Linked DNA regions of Homo sapiens: region 1 is linked to region 2. The links come from fine-mapping of genetic effects on gene expression. Tissue or cell type: tibial nerve. Region 2 holds a variant in brackets; the other region holds the start of a gene. All regions are shown on one strand. Distances are from middle to middle.

Region 1 (10,974 bases), 50 kb before region 2:
AATTGTAAATGTAACTAAATGTAAATGTAAACTAAAAGGTAAAAATAAAAGTGCAGATCACAGTGTCTAGAACCTAGCAAGTGCTCAGTAATATCATTGGTTTTTTATTCAGCATTCCACGTATGAAATATTCAGAAAATGCTATAGAATCTGTTGGGAATCCTATCTTGCTGCTGTTTCTATTTCAATGCTTAGTGCATGCTGGGTTTTTGTTTCTTCAATTAATTCTTTCATTTCTAACTTGACTTAGTTTTCCTTGACGATCTGGTCATTTTTTTATTCAGACTTCTTTTGAAAGACTCATCCACATTCTAGTAACTTTGGGCTGAGTTTAAGCTGGCTCACTTTTCACCTTTCAGCTGCTTCTATGTCAATCCCTGTGTCAGTCTGGGAGACCTGTCTTTGCTCACATTTGTTCAGCCCTTTGCCTTTTTGTCTGCCGACTATCTCTCCTTTCTAAGACAAAGATTGATTCTAAGACAAAGACAGAAGATTCTTTTCAATGCCTACAAGCCAAAATATTTTATTTTGGTTACGTCCCTGATAAGGGACTCCATGGTGACCTGCTGGCCCTGTGAGACGGCAGGGCCAAGATTCTAACAACAGGAATGATAATTCTTGAATCTATAAAATAATCTGTGACTCTATAGAAATGTTTTTATGACCTCTCCCTATGAGTACCAAGATGATAAACATATGGCAACATTCCCTAAGAAATGTATTAACAATTATATTGGGAGATTTAAATTTAACTTATAATTAATAACTGACAAATTGACTATTGCATTTTTTAGGAAATCATCAAACTCAGGTTTAGACGCAGTTATAAGTCATCCAGAGAAAATAACCCATTTTCATGTCATTCTAGGAATTAATCAGACCAGCCAGCCCCAGTGGGACCACGTTTCCTTTTTCTCACTTCAGAGTTGACACATGATTCTGCACCAGCCTTACTCTCAAAGGGGATTTCCCTACAAAGACTAAATAACATAAATTTTAAGTGTCATTTCTTAGACTGCAATGAACCATGAACTTCAGCACACTATCACTAAAACATTGCTTTTGTCGTCCTGTTGGTGGAAGATTTAAGGAGGGTTACATTTTTGTCCATTTCTTTTCTTTTCCTTTTCCTTTTTTTTTTTTTTTTTTTTGAGATGAAGTCTCCCTCATTGCCCAGGCTGGAGTGCAGCTGCGTGATCTCGGCTCACTGCGCCTCCCGGATTCAAGTGGTTCTTGTGCCTCAGCCTCTTGAGTAGCTGGGATTACGTGCGCCCGCACCATGCCCAGCTAATTTTTGTATTTTTGGTAGAAACAGGGTTTCGCCATGTTGGCCAGAGTGGTTTGGAACTCCTGACCTCAGGTGATCCGCCCGCCTTGGCCTCCCAAAGTCCTGGGATTACAGGCATGAGAGCCACCGCACCCGGGCCTATTTACTTTCTTTCAACGTTTGTTTTATTTTCAGATTATTAAAATAGTTCAGGTATGTTCCACTAATGAAAAATCTGGGAAGAAAATAGAGTACAAAGTACAAAGAAAGAAGAACCACGAGCTATAAGCCCACTACTCATATATTAACATTTTAATGCATTTCACCCAAATCTTGCTTCTCTGCAGTATTTTTACATAGTTGAAAAAGTTATGTTCCTCCTTTTTGGACTTAGCATTACATCATGAGACTATTTCCATAAATATCATTTTCTTGATGACATTTCTTTATATACCACCATGTGTTCAACCATTCTGATAACTAGGCTTATCATATTTATTTTAAATTAATGATTCTTTTAAAAACTCACTTTCACTTTACAAAATTCAGAAAATGCACAAAGCATAAAGAAAAAAAGAGAAATTAGAGATTAAATTTTTAAGCGTGGCTCTGGCAACTTGAAAACTGATATCGATAACTGCCATTTAATGCAATCATATTTTTAACCCTCACACAACAACCCAAAAAGTCAATATGTTATAGTCACCACTTTATAGGTTCGGAGGTCACAGAGCTGGTAGGTTCAGAGATATAGATTTTGAACAGATATGTCTGAGCCCCCAACTGTGTTTTCTCTTGGCTAAATTATACTGACCTTCCCATGATTACCTCCACCATTACCTCTACTACCATCACCTCCAACCACCATCTCCGCCATCTGTACCATCACCTCTACCATCACTTCCTCAACCATCTCCACCATGTCTACCATCACTTCTACCATCTGTCACCTCCACCGTCACCTCCAACCACCATCTCCACCACCACCTCCACCACCACCTCCACCATCTCCTCCACCACCACCTCCACCATCTCCTCCACAACCACCTCCACCATCTCTACCGTCACTTCCACCATCACCTCTACCACTCCAATCACCATTTCTACCATCTCCATTACCACCTCCACCATCGCCTCCACAACCACCTCTACCATCTCCACCGTCACTTCCACCATCACCTCCCCTACGACCACCACTTCCAACACCACCCCCTTTATCTCCACCTCCACCTCCACCACCATGTATCGCCAACCCTTTCACTTTACTGACCTGGGGATTTTTCTGATCCCCGTTCTACACACCCTTTCTTTACTCCACACCTTCATATTCTCCTCTCCTCCTCCACTCTGATCTTTTCTAACATTCACTTTTTAAAGTGCCTGAGTAACAGAGATAAAGCAATGGCTTTCCTACCACATTCATTTTATGAATTATGCCAGTTATTCATTCATTCAACAAATATTTACTGAGAGCAGGCACTGTTCTGAGCACTTGGGAGCACAAGTAACTCCTCCATTTGCAGGATTCTCTTTAAGGCTAAAAAGCTTATTTTTTAGGATTTTTCTTCACACACACACACACACACACACACACACACACACACACACACACACACCATTTGCCACATTAGACCTACTTGCAAATTGTTAACCTGTACTGCAATTATCAGCTCACACTGCAGAGCCTCCAAGCTGGATGGAAAGCAGAAGTGAGCTGTTCAAAAGGATGCACGAGTCAAAAGGAAAGTCTCAGGCAATAGTGATGAAGTAATTTCTTATCTCTTATTGCCACAGCAAACTACCGCAGGAAAGAACTTCCTATTTCCATACTCTGATGATGTATATTTGCTTAACACAGCTTGCCTGAAATAGTTCATACATGGACCCACTCCAGAAAAGACACTTGATTTATAAAAAGAGGAATGGAAGGAAATTATAAGGTAAATTAAAGAATGAGTTCATCAACACATACACAAACTTACACCCTTTTCTTCCTTGCTTGCATGATGTGAGCAGAAAGAAATGTGTGTTCTTTCCATTTCTGTTTCTTTTCTTTCTTTCTTTCTTTTTTTTTTTTGAGATGAACTCTTGCTCTGTCACCCAGGCTGAAGTGCAGTGGCGCAATCTCAGCTCACTGCAACCTCCGCTTCCCGGGTTCAAGCAATTCTCCTGCCTCAGCTTCCCAGGTAGCTGGGATTACAGGTGCATGCTCCCACGCCCAGTTAATTTTTGTATTTTTAGTAGAGACGGGGTTTCATCATGTTGGCCAGGCTGGTCTCGAACTCCTGACCTCAGATGATCCACCCGCCTTGGGCTCCCAAAGTGCTGGGATTACAAGCGTGAGCCACCGCACCCGGCATTCTATTTTCTATTTTCTTTTCTTTCTTTTTTTTTTTCTTCCTGTAGAGATGAGGTCTCATTATTTTGCCCCCAGGCTGGTCTCAAACTCCTGACCTCAAGTGATCCTCTCGCCGTGGTCACCCAAAGTACTGGGATTACAGGTGTGAGCCATTGTGCCCAGCCCTCGGTTTCAATTTTCTACATAAAATAAATAACTCGATAGAAATTAGACTTTATCAAGGACAGCACTAGGAACACATAGGCCACTCAAGACTAATAGAGCCCACTGCTGTAGTCAAAGATGCTTCAGTGGGTTATAATTCTGACTTCTATAATTAAATACTTTCACATATACCCCAGCAAAGAAAAATCAAGTGCCCCAGACACCCTTACTAAAAGACTCTGAACCAACAACACCTAGCTTTCATTTTTATACCAGAGATATTTTGGCAAGCCTGAGACCTTTATCAAAGTGTAAAATGTCCCCCAGCTGCCTCCATGCAAAGGAAGCTCCCTTGCAAAGAACACACTTTCTCGAAAGAGGGCGGCCCCAGAGTGCTTCCCCAAATGAACTCCTCAGGACCCAAATACATGCTGAATTGTGCTTTTCTAAATCAAACCTGTGGTCTGCAGTCTAAACACCTATCAAGACAACACCCATTTAAGAAACATAAAAGCAGAGTGAGTACACAACTCTCTCCTCTTTCAAAGCTTTCACAGAATTAAAGAATCTTTAGCACCTGGCTTCCCAGATTACAGAGAGCTGAGTGAATATTACATCCCCAAAGTCATATTTCCTACCTCACTACTCTAAGGAGAGTGCTAGGGTATCCATTGCTTTGCCATCTTGATCTGTCAAGCAGTTACCTCTCATACATCAGCCAAGAAGTGACGTTACTTACATGCAATACAAAGAGAGTAAATCCAAGAGCAGTCTTATTCCTGGATTCAGAAGCCTCATAGTACTCTGAGGCCAAGCTTGAGGATTCTACTTAAAGCAGCCTCAGCTCTGGAAACTCAGTCAACCCAGAACTAACATTCAAAGCTGATCAGAGAGTAAAGCTCTTTCGAAAGAAGAGGAAGTATCATCTCCACTTCCTCAATCCTAACGTTCTTCCTTCTCATTGTTATGAAACCCTTCCTTGATGCCCATATCCAGGACACAGTACATGTAAGGCAAGCACACCCCATCTGCCTGAGTTCATTGATCACTAAGCACTGCCCAGTGTATTCATTTGCCGAGCACATTGGTGGAACAGTTCATGGTTCTGCTTTCCTGTTTTGGAGGCAAGGATGTTCATTTACAGGCATGGAGGGTGAGATGATCTGCAGAGTCATTCTCAGCATTTTTGGGTGAAATGCCACTTCAACCTCTTTAGGTTCAATCTTCTTTCAGATTTCCCTCTTTCCTCCTTTCCTAATCGTTCATAATGCTCTAATAAAGAGAGGGTACAGACACATTTGTAAAACGTATTTTAGGATAAAAATAAGTCTTAGCCTGCCATCTTTTGCAGTAGACATAGAAGAGTCTCTAACCACAAAACTTTTCTTTCCCACATTGGAAAAGGAAAATGGCAGGCTGAAAGTCAGAGATATTCCATCTCATTACAAATTCCTGCCCTCCCAATCTCCCTTTCAACACCAGCTTCTTGTTTCTCTATACCTTCTAGGGAAATGAATACAGCTGGGCGTGGTGGCAGATGCCTGTAATCCCAACCACTCAGGAGGCTGAGGCAGGAGAATTGCTTGAACCTGGGAGGCAGAGGTTGCAGTGAGCCGAGATCGCACCACTGAACTCCAGACTAGGAGACAGAGCAAGACTCCAACTCAAAATAAATAAATAAATAAATATGTATGTGTATATATATATATAATATATATATATAATATATATATTATATATATATTATATATATATTATATATAATATATATATTATATATATATTATATATATAATATATATATTATATATATTATATATATATAATATATAAAATATATATATTATATATATAAAATATATATAATATATATAATATATATATAAAATATATATAATATATATAATATATATATAAAATATATATATAAAATATATATATATATAAAATATATATATATAATATATATATAAAATATATATATATAATATATATATAAAATATATATATATAATATATATATAAAATATATATATATATATATATATATATATATAGAATATATAGAATATATAGAAACCTAATCCCCAATGTGATTGTATTTAGAGGTGGACCTTTGGGGAGTGATTAGGTCATGAGGACAGTGCCCTCATGAATGGTATTAATTTTCTTATTAAAGAGAACCTGGAGATCTGCCCACCCCTCCACCATATGAGGACATGGCCAGAAGACAGTCACCTAGGAACGAGGAAGCAGGTCCTCACCAGACAATGAATCTGCTGGCGCCTTGATCTTGGATGTCCAGCCTCCAGAACTGTGAGAAATAAATGTCTTTTGTTTGTAAGCCACCCAGGCTACGGTGTTTTGATATAACAGCCTGAATGACTAAGACAAAGATAAAATGTAAACTAAATCTGTGGAGGAGTGAAAAAATGAAAGAAGATGCTGTACATTTTGAGCAGGAACAAAATGAAGGTTCTCTCAGCGGCTTCTTGTTTGTGTACACTTCTATTTCTGGAAGTGCTGCCTCATCTTCTCCCTATATTGAGTTGTCTTCTAGTTCCCTGCTTTACGTAGAAAAAAAAATGGTACTAGGTGATATTAAAGGAATTTAGTGGTATCAACAGCATGGCCTGGCTTCTCACCAGACATTTAGATGCCATCATCAAAGATATCCTCAAAAGACATGTTATTTACCTTTATGGGGCCAGAATAGAGCCACTTAAATTCTTTGAGCAAAGATGATTTGTAGAATTAGAATAATCCTCAAAACGGCCGGACTGTCAGTTCAAGATGACGGGCTGACCACAGATTTGCTCCCTCCCTCCCCAAAGACTCCGTTAAAATGAGAAAAGTATAAAAAGTTTATAGGGCCGGGCACGGTGGCTCACACCTGTAATCCCAACACTTTGGGAGCCCCAGGCTGGCAGATCATGAGGTCAGGAGATCGAGACCATCCTGGCTAACATGGTGAAACCTGTCTCTACTAAAAATACAAAAAATTAGCCACGCCTGGTGGCACGAGCCTGTAATCCCAGCTTCTCAGAAGGCTGAGGCAGGAGAATCGTTTGAACCTGGGAGGCGGAGGTTGCAGTGACCTGAGATCGCGCCACTGCACTCCAGCCTGGGTGACAGAGCGAGATTCCGTCTCAAAAGAAAAAAAAAGATATAAACCCACAATAACCCAAAAAAGGAGGAAAAGCATCAGAACTTGGGAGAGCACAACAGATTTCTGGCAGCCTGAAAGCCGATGGAGGAGCAATAACAGATGGAGGCAGGCAGGGGAACCACAATATCTCATTAGTTAGGAGAACACGGCGTTGGAGGAAATTGCCCGTGTGCGGTGCTGAATCCCTGAGAGGACCGGAACTCAAGCCAAAAGAAGCTAAGAGAGCTAAATGAGTGATAGGGTGACAGGACTGAAAACAGGAAGAGTAATTCAAAGTCTGTAAGAACTCAGCCCCTCCCATACCCCTCTTTCAAATCTCTCTGTCCGCCCAGCCTCTGCACAGCAAACACACACAATTCCAACCCCGGGCAGCATACCGAGGATTCGTCTCTACACATAGTGAAATCATGCAGAGAATACAGGCATTGTATGTGGATATGAGCACTCCACAGTCAGAACTCCACATTCTGGCAATAAGAGCCTCATCTAGCATGTGCTGGATGATGGATGATGTGCTTTTTTTTTTTTTTTTTTTTTTGAGACAGAGTCTTGCTCTGTCACCCAGGCTGGAGTGCAGTGGCATTAATTATCTCGGCTCACTGCAACCTCCGCCTCCAGGGTTCAAGTGATTCTCCTGCCTCAGCCTCCTGAGTAGCCAGGATTACAGATATGTGCCACCACACCCAGCTATGTTTTGTATTTTTAGTAGAGACAGTGTTTCACCATGCCGGCCAGACTGGTCTCAAACTCCTGACCTCAGGTGATCTGTGCACCTTGGCCTCCCAAAGTGATGGGATTACAGGCATGAGTCACCACGCCTGGCCTAGATATGCTTCTAATCAGTATCCTTAGAGACAGTCCTGAAGATATTGTATCCATTAAAAAGAACAGGATGCTAAGAAAGATAGATAATCTGAAAACAAGAAAGACCCCTTGGATATTGCAAATATAATTGTTAAATAAAGATTTTGATAGGTTGGGTGATAAATTCAAGTGAAATTTTCAGGAAATATTATTTGATGACATAGTCAAAGAAATAACATAAAGGATCCCCCTGAAGTCCAAGAATATTTAGATTAAAAAGTCTCATCGAGTGCCTAGGATGAAGAATTTCAAGTCACTGCAAAATTTCCAAACTCCGGAAATAAAGAGAAAATCTTAAAATCTCCCAAACACAGAAAATAAGTCACTTTCACAGAAACAAGGAATCAAAGGGCTCCAGATTTCACAGAAGTAGCATTAAGGGTTAGAAGGTCAGCGAGCACAGCCTTCAAAGTTCTGAAGGATTTATATTTCACTCTAGAATTTTGTGTTCATTCATCCAGTGTATTAGTCCATTTTCATACTGCCATAAAGAACTGCCAGAGACTGGGTAATTTCTAAAGGAAAGAGGTTTAATTGACTCTTATAAATTAAAGAGGTTTAATTCAGCATGGCTAGGGAGGCCTCAGGAAACTTACAATCACAGTGGAAGGTGAAGGGAAGCAAGGCGCCTTCTTCACAAGGTGGCAGGAAAGAGAAGTGCTGAGTAATGGGGTAAGAGCCCCTTATAAAACCATCAGATCTCATGAGAACTCACTCTCACAAGAACAGCATGGGGGAAACCACCCCCATGATTCAATTTCCTCTACCTGGTGTCTCCCTTGACACATGGAGATTATGGGGATTACAATTCAAGACGAGGTTTGGGTGGGGACACAAAGCCTAGCCATAGCATTCAGCAAATATTTTTGAGCACTGTGTCTAGGCAGTGAGGACGCAGCAGTGAACCAAATAAAGTCCTGCCCTCAGGGAACTTCTTTTCTCATGCTCAGATCAGGATGGTGTACTCTCTACACAAACAAAGAAAGTAAAATATAATGTGTTAGGTAGAAGTAAGTGCTAAGGAGGAAAAATAAATCAGCAGAGGAAATATATAGAGTCTAAGGAGAGGCTAAAAATTAGATGGGGAGGCCAGCAAAGGACTCACAAAGGTGACCTCTGAGTGACAGCCTGGAGGAAGTGAAGGCGTGAGCTGTGTAGACAGCTAAGGGAAGAGAAATCCGCAGACAGAGCCCCAAATGCAAACATCCTGCCACCCCCAGAGCCTTTTGGTGCCGCAGGAACAGCATGGGGGCAGGTGTGGCTGGAACAGAGCAGAGCGGGTCAGAGATGGAGAGGGGAGCCGGGGAACCCATGATTATGGTTAGGTCCTATGGGGATCGTTGTGAGAACTTGGGTTTTTGACTCTGACCAACTAAACCAGGAGCTGACAAACTATTTCTGGAACAGGCCAGATAGTAAATATTTTAGATTTCGTGGGCCAATCTCTGTTCAATTACTCAACCCTGCCATTGTGGTATCAAAGCAGCCATAGATAACATGTAAAAGAGCAGCTGTGCTCTAATAAAACTTTATCTAGGGCCACTAACATTTGAACTGCCTATAATTTTCACGCATCACAAAATCTTCTTCTTTTGATTTTTTTAAGCACCTAAAAATGTAAAAAACTGTCATAACTTACCAGCTGTGCAAAAATAGGCAGCAAGCCAAAAGCGGCCCGTGGAAAGTAGGTTGCTGATCCCTGAATGAAACCATCAATTAGGTGTGAAGGTAGAACATGCCCGTTTTCAGATATATCAGAGCTGACTCAGAAGGCTGACTGCCCACAAATCCTTTCTTTTTTTTTTTTTAATTTTTATTTTTTGAGACAGAGTCTTGCTCTGTTGCCCAGGCTGGAGTGCAGTGGCATGATCTCACCTCACTGCAACCTTTGCCCCCCAGGTTCAGCGATTCTCCTGCCTCAGCCTCCCAAGTAGCTGAGATTACAGGCGCCTGCCATCACGCCTGGCTAATTTTTGTATTTTTAGTAGAGACAGGGTATTACCATGTTAGCCAGGCTGGTCTCGCACTCCCAACCTTTAGTGATCCCCCCATCTCGGCCTCCCAAAGTGCTGGGATTACAGGCATGAGCCACTGCACCCAGCCTCCACATACCTTCTTAGGAAGTTACTTGATGATGGACCCCAGCAAAATAAGGGAGTAAACTAAAAAATGGAAGTGGTGGAATCCGGGAAACAGAAGACTCAACCTGGGAGCGTTGCAAAGGGAAATCCTTGGATGGGAATCAGGCAGCTGAACCACACAGCAAACATCAGCATGGAGCTCGGTAAGAGAGGAAAAGTTTCCAAAAGCAAAGTATTCAGGGGAAAATGGAATCACAGAGCGTGATACCACCCCTGAAATTATGGAGTAACCAATATGGGCAGCGCAGCCAAAGAAAGAAAAATAGAAAAACAATTAGAAAACATCAAGAAATAACAATAAAAGCAGTAAAGGAACAGAATGGAATTACTCTATACTGTTCGGCTTGTGAAGTTAAGGATAATTTTTACAGGCATAATAATGCAATACTCACAACTGATTTTCAATTTTGAGGATCAAGATCTGGAGAAAACATGTAAAACAAGAAGATACTGTAAGTGGCAGAGTGTGGTGGCTCGCACCCGTAATCCCATCTTTGGGAGGCTGAGGCAAGAGGACTGCTTTAGCCCAGGAGTTCAAGCCAAGAATGGGCAACAAAGGGAGACACTGTCTCTGTGTATATTTTAAAGAAAAAAAAAGAGAAAAGATTAAGACAATATAAATGTTAAAGTATGCTGGACTCTGATGGCAGCCACTAGCTACTAAAAATTAAGCTTTAGCTAATTAGAATAAAGTAAAATAAAAATTAAGTAAAAAAAATTAAGTAAAATAAAAATTAAGTAAAAAAAATTTCGGTTCCTTGGTTGCACCAGCCACAGTTCGAGTGCTCAGTAGCCACTGGTGTCCAGAAGCTCCCATCTTGCACAGCACAGACATGGAGCATTTCTCTTCATCTGGAAAGTTTCTTTGGAGAGCCCTGGGGGACATGAGAGGTGGAAAGAGAGGTTTGAGAGCCAACTTACAATTTGAGGATTGATTGAGATTCTCCACAAACAAGAAACAAGTGGGACCATATTATTTTAAAAGTTACCCAAGTAACTGACGAGCACTAACCAGGGAGTTAATTATAAC
Region 2 (10,974 bases):
TGGAGCATGCGTGATACACAAGCCCTGCAGCTTACAGCCCTCACAACAAAGAGCTGACTCATCAACACAACTTTCAATTGCCCCGCCCAATATTCATATAGATGGGAACTCAGTTTACAATAACAAATCTATGATCTCATTTCATTTTATATATAAACACACAGAATTTTCAGCCCAGTTTTAATATGCTTTGGATTTTTCAAGAATGCAATGAGAGAATTCTATAAATGGAAGGAAGCCTATATACTGAGTGATTATGAGCAAGAAAGCCAGAGCCAGGCTGCTTTCATTTTAATCCCAGCTCTGCCATTATTAGCACATAACCAGGATGACTAGCACATAACCTGGGTAACTCCCTCATATGCAAAACGGGACTAACAGCAGTACTCACCTCATAGATTTATTAGAAAGGTATTAGAACAATGCCAGGCACACAGCAAGCACTATATGAGTGAAGCCATTACAGACTAGGTATGCCTAGAACTTTATCTAAAGAATTGGCCACATTTTAGAAAATCATACTGCTGACATCGACCCCTTTCCTGGTATTGAACTGCCAATGCAGCAGGTCTGAATTGGTAACTACCACATTCATGGTGATTTTTCACATATTTATATTTATACACACACATACAAAGTATGTGCCCTGCTTAGTAGTTTAATTACATCTTGTAATATAACCATGCTAGAATATGTACATATGAAAATAATTATTTCATTATAAAATATCTTATCTGTTTCAGTTAGAACGTCACTGATGGGTATGTTTTAGAGGCTAGTTATATTACCTGCTAGTTTCATTTCAGAATAGTAAATGGAGTGATGTTTTTATGAGTGAAGGTAAGCTTCATCATCCATGATTTTCATTTGAAGATTGAAAAGTGATGCTATAAAATATTATAATAGGGGTAGGTGTTGAGTTGTGTCTGGGAGAGTTTTAACAATCACTCTTGTAAAGTATCCTGTCAAGGAGTTCAAGATCAGCCTGGCCAACATGGTGAAACTCCATCTCTACTAAAAATACAAAAATTAGCCAGGTGTGGTGGCGGGCACCTGTAATCCCAGCTACTTGGGAGGCTGAGGCAGGAGAATTGCCTGAACCTGGGAGGCAGAGGCTGCAGTGAGTTGAGATTGTACCACTGCACTCTAGCCTGGGTGACAGAGTGAGAATCTGTCTCAGAAAAAAAAAAAAATTTTTTTTAAAGAAATAAAAATAAAGAATCCTGTCAAAAAGCATCATCAAGCAACTTCATATGTGAACACACGTCCACAATTAAACCTGGATTACTACTGAGGCAAGCAGTTTCCATTAATTTCTAAGAAATCCATATTAAACTATTATTTATGTATGTCCATAGTAGAGGTTTACAAAGGTTTTTTTTTTTTAGCAGCAATATATTTTTCAAACACAATTCAGGAGAAAACCTCAAATAAAAAGAAAGATGAAGCTGTGGAGGGTGACTGCAAGTAGAGGAGCCAGGAACTTCTCTCGCGGGTCCTGGGACTCCAGGGAACAAAGGCTGAAAAGCACCAATCTGGTTGGCCACTGCCTATAATGAAGACTGACTGCCGAATATTCACTTAAAGGATGGCTGTTCAATTCACAAGTGGCATTTTCCCCACAGAAAAAGAGCTCACCAGCCAGCTAAGGCCTCCAGAGTGATTTAACTCATCATCCAGTGGAACTACAGCTCTTAGAGTTCTCCCCACAATCTGGGGAGTAAGAGGAGATGTTGCCACCCACTTCCTGGGCATAAAGCCAGCTCAAGACAAGAGTAAAACAGGCAGGGCTGGCTCGCCCCTCGTACACAGCTCCCTCCTCATCACCAGTGCCCTACACGAGACCTCCCCAGCCCACACCCCACCCTCCTAGTGTGTTGAACACCCTGTGGTCACACACTGCAAGCCTCTTCTCTCCATCTGCCAAACACCCTTGGGTCTCCATGTCTCCATGAAATACCAGATCTTTTTCTTTTTGTTTTTTTTTTGAGACAGAGTCTCCTTCTGTCACCCAGGCTGGAGTGCAGTGGCCTGATCTTGGCTCACTACAACCTCCGCCTCCAGGGTTCAAGTGATTCTCCTGCCTCAGCCTCCCGAGTAGCTGGGACTACAGGTGCCCACCACCATGCGAAGCTGATTTTTAGTAGAGACAGGGTTTCACCATGTTGGCCAGGCTGGTCTTGAACTCCTGACCCCAGGTAATCCACCCACCTTGGCCCCCCAAAGTTCTGGAATTACAGGCATGAGCCACTGCGCCAGGCCGAAATACCAGATCTTCATGGCAGTTGTCTTAGAGGTAGAGAAGAAAACAGCCAGACTGAGCCGGGTGTGGTGGCTCATGCCTGTAATCCCAGCACTTTGGGAGGCTGAGGCCGGCAGATCAGTTGAGGTTGGGAGTTTGAGACCAGCCTGGCCAACGTAGTGAAACCCCGTCTCCACTAAAAATACAAAAATTAGCCAGGCATGGTGGCGGGCACCTATAATCCCAGCTACATGGGAGGCTGAGGCAGGAGAATCGCTTGAACCTGGAAGGTGGAGGTTGCAGTGAGCTGAGATTGCGCCACTGCACTCCAGCCTGGGTGACAGATTGAGACTCCATCTCAAAAACAAACAAACAAACAAAAAAAACCAGCCTGACTGAATTCAGTCACAGTAATTATACATGAGTGGTTGCTAGTTCCTTTAACCACACCAGAAGCATTTTAAAGGGAAGATGTTTCCTAACTCCAGTGATTTTCATGGGCTGAATTCCAGGCAGTTCAGCAAACTCAACAATTCCGGTGGTATGAGAAAGGGCATTTTGGAGTAGGAGATTTCGGCTCTGCCTAGGAAGATACCTCAGAAAATTCCCCTCGTGCAATTTCACTTTGCATATGCTTCTCCTGTTCTTCCATTTCTAATCCATAAAATCCCAAAATGCTTGGGAGGGTTTATTTTGATTTTTTTTAACAATACTGCCCTGCTGGCAACAGCCACGATAGTCACTTGCTCATCTGAAAATGCCTTGCACTTTCTTTTTCACTAGCTTCGTGTATGACGCAAAACAGAAATATTTCAATTACAGGTGACTAAGAGTAAGAAAAATATACAACTATATTTAAAATACTTAAATTAACAAGATAGTACTTTTCCATTCTAACAAAATATCATACATTCAGTTTAAACAAGAGTTAATATCCAGACACACGTTTTCAAAATACCTGATGCTAGTTGAAAATTAGTGACCATGAGGCTTTCCAAGATATTTCTAATTAGCAAACTGTGTACAATTTTGAAGAAGTGTACACACCGTGCTGGAAGACAGACACTGAACAGGTCAAAATGCAAACTCATGTATCTTTCATCAACCTAAATCTTGTTGCTTCACTTTTCTAAATGATACTTTGGCTGTCAGCGAATCTTATAGCTTCTTTTCCCTTAAAGACAATAATATATAACAACACCACCCCACACAAATAACCATAAACTTCTTTGTGTGAAATAAGCCCTATCAAAATGTGTTCATGTATTTCTGTACCAACTGATCTATACTGAGACTGTCATGAAAAAGGTATCAAACAAGTGTAACAGGCCTACACTTAAACCTCTGCCTCAAAGGAGAAATCAGATACTTGCCACGTTATTGCAAAGTCAAAGCTGCTACACTTAAAATATGGTAGATAGTTTAGAAAAATCAAATCAAAAATGTTTTCTCACTGGCTTTTTCAGATAAAGAAGTTGGACCACAAACCAACACATCTGTGTGAAAACAGCCACCAATTTGAGTCCCCCCAGCCCCTCAAAAAGGAACAATGCCACCAGTCCCTCACAATGACCATAACGTCTCTGGCCAGGACTGCGATTTCTAGCGCGTGTCTTCACATTCTATCTCTGGGGAAGCAAGACAAACAGGCTCTACCCATTTCCCTCCTTTTGTCTCCACAAGCCAGCACCTAAGATCCTCTGAATTTGTTCCCATCCAATCCTGCAAACTTCCAAGAAGGGCAGTAGATAACTTTTCAAAAGAAAAAGAAATTGCATAAGGTCCCTACATAATACTGAGGCTGAAACGAGAAGAGGCTGTCCACTGTAAAAGCAAGGCACTTGGGGCAGGAGCCAGGCAGGTGGCCTGAGCAGGGTCCCTCTCAGTGAGTCAACAGTTTGAGGCGCGTAAACCAGCTGACCAGGAGGGACGGTTCTGTGGACGAGGACTTCGTAGCTGAGGAGCCAGATTTCTTTTTGGTCCCTTCCTCCTGGAATGGAATCGTGGCGCTGCTGTGGAGATCTGAGTTGATGTAGCACCTGCTTCCTCGGATGTAGTCCGCACCCCGGACCAGATGCCGCTCGGTCGTGGGTCTGGAGAACCGGTATGGGGGAGAGGAGCTCTCTTCAATGATCGGAGGAATCCGCTCGTTACTGAAATACCGGCAAAGGGCATCCTCCCCTGTTTCCAGACAAAGTCCATTAAGTCACAATCCCAGC[C/T]GGGCGTGGTGGCTCACACCTGTAATCTCCGCACTTTGGGAGGTCGAGGTGGGTGGATCACGAGGTCAAGAGATCTAGACCATCCTGGCCAACATGGTGAAACCCCGTCTCTACTGAAAATACAAAAATTAGCTGGCGTGGTGGCGGGCGCCTGTAGTCCCAGCTACTCAGAGAAACGTTTGAACCCGAGAGGCGGAGGTTGCAGTGAGCCAAGATCGCGCCACTGCACTCCAGGCTGTTGACAGAGCGAGACTCTGTCCCCTCCAGGAAAAAAAAAAAAAAATCACAATCCCCTACACAGTGCTCTTTGGAGGGCCCTCGGCCTGCCCAGACTTCTGCCACCACCCTGAATGTGGGCACCATACCTTTACTGCTCTCCTCCCTGGATTGGCCACAAGGTCCCACCTGTGGCTGGGCCCACCAATGGGTGCTCTGGAAGCAGAAATGGGAAGGGTCCCTCATACTTTAGGCTGCTTTAGCGCCTGAGAGGTAGCACACGGGTCTCCTTTAGTGGGTGGGGACCATAGAGTGTAGTGTCCCCGCGATGGCTGAACAGAACTGTTTATGCATTGTTTAATGCAGGGCATTCAAGCTGGGCATTCAGGAACATTCCCGAACAAGGAAAAGAGTGATCCTGCCCTAACTGCCAGCAGACCCCCTGGGATGTGGCTGGAATGTTAAGAAACTGAATAGAAACTTAAAATACAGTACACTTTGGTAACATGTAGCATCCTTGTGAAGCGGAAATTCTACACCCCAAAATGTGCAAAGATCTATGGACTCACGGATGCTTACTGAAACATTTATTTTTATGCTTATTTTTATTTTTTGAGACAGGGTCTCACTGTCATTCAGGCTGGAGTACAGTGGTGCCATCTCAGCTAGTTGCAGCCTCCATCTCCCAGGCTCAAGCGATCCTCCCACCTCAGCCTCCCAAGTAGCTGGGACTACAGGTGCGCACAACCACACCCAGCCGGTCTCGAAATCCTGAGACCAAGCAATCCACCTGCCTCAGCATCCCAAAGTGTTGGGATTAGAGGCATGAGCCACCACACCTAGCCTACTGAAACCTTTTTCAAATTTTAGAATTTGAATTTTAGAATTTTCTAAATTTTCTAAATTCTAAGTTTTCTAAATTTTAGAATTTAGAAAATTTTAGCCTTTTTCAAATTTTAGAATTTGAAAAAAAAAAAAAAAAAAAAAAACCTAAATTTCCAACAGTGGCACGTTGAATAAATAGGCGCTAGAGCCATAAGATGGCATTCTAATACGGCTATATTCTTTTCAAATATGGTGTAGATAATATTCATTTTTACATAGTATTATTGAATATTTACTTCTCCCCTTTTTTTGAGACGGAGTCTCACTCTGTTGCCCAGGCTGGAGTGCAATGGAGAGGTCTGGGCTCACTGAAACCTCCGCCTCCCAGGTTCAAGAGATTCTCCTGCCTCAGCCTCCCGAATAGCTGAGACTACAGGCGCCCACCACCACACCTGGCCAATTTTTGTATTTTTAGTAGAGACGGGGTTTCACCATGTTGGCCAGGCTGGTCTCGAACTGCTGACCTCGTGATCCGCCTGCCTTGGCCTCCCAAAGTGCTGGGATTACAGGTGTGAGCCACCGCACCTGGCCAACTTCTCCCATTTTGCACATTTTTCTAAGTATATAAATGTAAATACAGGAACAACTGGAAATCACACGAAACATTCACAGTGATTATTTCTTAGGTCAGAGAAACAGATTCCAGCTGAGTTTTATTTTCTCATGCCTTCCATGTTTTTCAATGTACTTGCTTTGCTTTTGTAATGAAAGGGGAACAGTCACATTGAAAAAGTGCCCATTGTCAAAAAGCCACATGTTGCATAAGTCTATTTATATGAAATGTCCAGAACAGGCAAATCCACAGAGTAGATGAGTGCCTGTCAGGGGCTGAAGAAGGACGGAATTGGGAGTGACTGCTAAAAGGCACAAGGTTTCTTTTTGGAGTGACAAAAATGTTCTGGAATAGTGGCAACTGGGGTACAACTCCGTGAATATACTAAAACCCACCTGACTGTATATTTTAAAAAGCTGAATTTCATGCAAAGAGTTATATCTCAATAAAACTGTTATTTTTTTAAGTGGCTGTGTATAGATAGATACCTTTATTCCAAAACAATCATGCAAGAAAAATATGCAAGGAGGAGTGGAGGGAACAAGTATTTTTCCATTTCCCAATTTCACACCCCATAACCCTGACACTTCATCTCTCCATGTATAAAATAAATAAAAGGCTCAACCCTGGCTCAGATGAACGGCAAGGAAGATGTTAACGTGTCTAAATCTAAACAACGGACAGCCCTGCCACCTGCTGACTGCTCCATGGATACTCACACGTTAACTAAGGGGATCCTGAATGGTAGGTACCCAGGCATCTTTCCCTTTTTCACTTTAGCATAATACAGGTGATATGGGTACTTAGGTGACAAACTTTACCAAGTCCCTAGAAAGGGTCAGGGGTCAATCAATCCCTTTGGAAGGTTAGGCTTCCAGAATTTTTTCTTCTTCCTTTTACTATCTAAAGCCTATTGTACTTTAACTTTTCAACTGCCCTTTGTTTCAACAACTGCAAAAACAATGTTATAATGTTCTGCCAATGATGACAATCAAATGCAATCTGGCAATAAAATGAGAATGTTTTAAAACATTTCACTCAAGACCAGCATAATAACCAGGGACTTTGATTACAGGGTGAATTAAACACAAATTTCTTTTCAAATAGTAACTGCCTTCTAACATAAGAAGGACTTGGAAGAAAAAAAAATCCATGTTTGTTCATCAGAAATCAAACAGACTCCAAAAATAAAAGCAACAAAATTTAGAATAAGATTGTTTAATGAAAGCTGGGCATGGTGGCACACGTCTGTAACACCAGCTATTCAGGAAGCTGAAGTGGGAGGATCACTTGAACCCAGGAGTTCAAGGCCAGCCTGGGCAACATAGTAAGACCCCATCTCAATTTTTAAAAATAAATTTTGAAAAAGATTGTTTAATGAATAATTTATTTCTATTCATTAAAAAATTAGACTATTGGCTGGGTATGGTGGCACATCCCCGTAATTCCAGCACTTTGGGAGGCTGAGGCAGGAAGACCACTTACAGCTAGGAGTTTGAGACCAGCCTGGACAACATATTGAGACTCTGTCTCTACCAAAAAAAAAAAAAAAATTAGCCAGCCGTGGTGGCGTGCACCTGTAGTCCCTGCTACTCAGGAGGCTGAGGCAGGAGGATCACTTGAGTCCAGGAGCTCAAGGCTGTAGTGAGGTATGATCACGCCACTGCACTCCAGCCTGTGTAACAGAGCAAGATCCTGTCTCTAAAAAGTAAATGAATAAAAATTAGACCATTAAAGTCTATAGCCTTTTTACAGCACTCAATGCTAATTAGGATATTTACAATCACTAACTAGGATTATATAATTTTGCCATTCTAGAAATAAGTAGGATCTTAAAGATCTTCAGCAGTCCTAATTTTACAGATGAGAAAACGGGACTCAGAAAGGCCAAGTACTCAGTCTACTTATTATAACACATTTAGAAACAGAGGTGAAACCAGGCCCTGGGGCTGTTCACTCCCCATTTGCTGTTCCTTGGTTTGCTTGGATGAAACGTACCTTTCCTGCCATGACCTCGAGGTCTGGCAAAAGGGTCCACAATCCCCATCCAGTTCCCATCAGCAGGCATGGACAAAGGCCGTGGCTTGCCTTCAGAGGGACGAGAAAGAAGGTGACAAGTTTGATGAGTTCTGGAACTTTAGTGAACCGTTCCCTTTATGTATAACTTAGACCTCACAATACCACACCCACTTAGACAGAAGCAATAACAAATTTTAAAATAAAAGTATTTTAAAGCACTGTATTTCCATAGCAGGAAATAGAGTGCTACTAAGATAGAGGCACATTAAACTTGAGCCTGTGAGTCTACAGAGCAAAGCAACTCCAAAGCTAAAACCCAGGCACTGAAAGTTAAAACTGTAACATGATCTCACCCAGTTGGGCTTTCATGCCAGGCAGAGTAATGACTCAACAAGGATCCGCTTGACAGAGATGAATAAAGGTCTCATACTTAGAATTTCATTGAGGTTTATGTTTTCCTCAGATTACTCTTGAAGTCTGCCAAATTCATCCAACAGTTCCAACTAAGGCAGGGGGCGGGGAGGAGAAGTCAAGGCCAACGGCAGAACAAAACAAACACTTGAAACTTACCATAAGATGGTGTTTTCTCTCTCATTTTTGTGGGCAGAATGTTGGTTTCCACCGAGTACCCAGGCAACTGATCCGAGTCTGCAATGGTGAATCTTCGTCTCCGGCTTTCCTGGTCCAAGAAGGAATTCGGGGACTCTGAACCCTTAGGACCAGGCAATGGTTGTTTGCACTTACTGGACCCTCCATAAACAAAACTGCCATTCTCATCCCTGGAAGATAATATGGACAATAATTAAGTTGTTTACAAAGATGTTCTCATACTGAAGAATTCCAGCAGTGCTGCTACCTCCAGCACACAGAAGATAATTTAAATTCTCCTTTTCCACTGGAGGAAAAGCATTCCTTTTGTCAACCCCAGTTGCCGCTCAAATACATACAGATCCTATTAAATAAGCAAAATACCATGACGTGATGAAATAAGAATAAATGCAGGCCGGACACAGCGGCTCCCGCCTGTAATCCCAGCACTTTGGGAGGCCAAGGCAGGTGGATCACCTGAGGTCAGGAGTTCAAGACCAGCCTGACAAACAAGGTGAAACCCCATCTCTACTAAAAATACAAAAATTAGCCAGGTGTGGTGGCAGGAGCTACTTGGGAGACTGAGGCAGGAGAAGTGCTTGAACCCAGGAGGCGGAGGTTACAGTGAGCTGAGATCATGCCACTGCACTCCAGCCTGGGCAATGGAGCGAGACTCCATCTCAAAAAAAAAAAAAAAAAAAAAGAAGAGTAAATGCAGGGTTTTTTTTAATATCCAAACAAATATAGCTTTGAAAAGACAGCTCTAGTTTTCCTGTGCTTCTGTGTGTAGCTGAATATCCTATTTACTACAGCAATCACACATTAAGGTATGCTCTAGCGAACCACGTTGCTCATGCCAAGAGTCGGATCTCTGCCAAAATCCAGCAAAAAAGACTTGATATATTATGAAGTTGTTAGATTTGAAAACCATGTCAAAAGATACAAAGGAACCTTTATAGTAACCAATGGAGAGTGATTCTTTTCTGAATCAAATACTACAAAAACCAGCAAAAGTTGGATCACTGATTCCATTCTAATTCTATCTACATGTCAGTTTAAACTGTAGGATTAATTTGAGTCCAAGTTACCAGCTGCTTAGTTTTTTTGCACTTGGTAAATTCCATTAGGCAAATCAGGACAAAAACTGCTAGACAAAATACAGAATCAACTGAGTCCCAAAGCAATCTACTAATCAGCCATGTCTGTGTGTGGTATTCCCAGGTGGGATGGCATCCACCTACCCCTCCCACCCACAAATATATCTCCTTCCATACCTTTAAACCGGGCATATAACTCCCCATTCACAAAGCTTTCATGACTCATGACTTGTTTCTCAGTAATCCATTCCCATTTTTCATTCCTCAGAAAATCCTTCATGAGTGGTGTGTGTGCACTCTCAAAAGCGTCTTCCCGAGCAGTTTAATCCAGCTCTCCTCCTAGCCCCAGGTTCCTTTATCTCTCACTATGTACACAGCACCCCTTTTCTTGCCACTACTCCAGGAACCCAGACAAGAATATTCTGGATCAAGGGAGGGTGCCTTCCTCCAGTTTCTGATAGAACAATCCACACATTAGTAGTGGAATGTCATGCTCTCTATATGCAGAGGGAAAGACTACCTGTAACTTTAAACACACTTAAGATCCTGCAAACCAGAATGCCCCGATCACCTGAGGTACATTCTCTACACGCTATAATAAGTTCTGAGTAAGCCAAGACTCAAGGAAATGGAAAACAATGTTGAATCTCTGCACCCAATGCAGAAGAAATACAATGAAGCAAATACCTCAGCTTCAAATGAAAACCAACAAACAAAAAATTCTGATAGAAAGTAAAATGTCACTGTAATAAAATCCAGCCTGAACTTTGTTTTATGAAATATTATAACCTAATCATATATTTCTCAATATATGCTTGAATTGTTGAATAAGACCCTGGCAGTTCTGTAGGGTCAAAGACCGAGTCTGTTTTGTGTCAGAGGGTAACCCAGACCCAATACTCAGGAAAGATATGCTGAATAAATGAGCCAGATTGTCTAGTTTTATCAACATATATAAATATGTGAGTTGATAAAAATAAGCCTAGATCACACCTAAATCATCCTGTACACTCTATATACCACCCTCATTATACCATACAGTATTCAAGTTAGCCATGAAGAAAGCAACTATCTTTTTAAGAATTTATGGTACACACACACACACACACACACACACACACACACACAAATATGAAATGTTCATACCTACACTCA

What was found. PIP is the estimated chance that this variant, and not a neighbour inherited with it, causes the effect.
Region 1: IPCEF1 starts here. The variant in region 2 is fine-mapped to the expression of IPCEF1 in tibial nerve (GTEx, PIP above 0.99). The same link has a PIP of 0.9 or more in esophagus muscle, pancreas, sigmoid colon, sun-exposed skin and unexposed skin.

Annotation. Positions count from the first base shown.
Region 1 is chr6:154,352,163-154,363,136 of GRCh38, forward strand. IPCEF1 (interaction protein for cytohesin exchange factors 1) reads right to left here and starts at 4,641. Exons shown (of 12, transcript NM_001130700.2): 1 at 4,510-4,641. It overlaps LOC105378067 (a long non-coding RNA gene), which reads right to left. Exons shown (of 3, transcript XR_007059823.1): 2 at 9,916-10,819; 3 at 7,731-9,502.
Region 2 is chr6:154,402,230-154,413,203 of GRCh38, forward strand. It overlaps CNKSR3 (CNKSR family member 3), which reads right to left. Exons shown (of 13, transcript NM_173515.4): 11 at 8,705-8,913; 12 at 8,114-8,203; 13 at 1-4,423. The coding sequence ends at 4,125. Among named protein-coding and RNA genes, the nearest start is that of IPCEF1, 51 kb to the left of the region's middle. The variant C/T (reference allele first, on the strand shown) is at 4,462.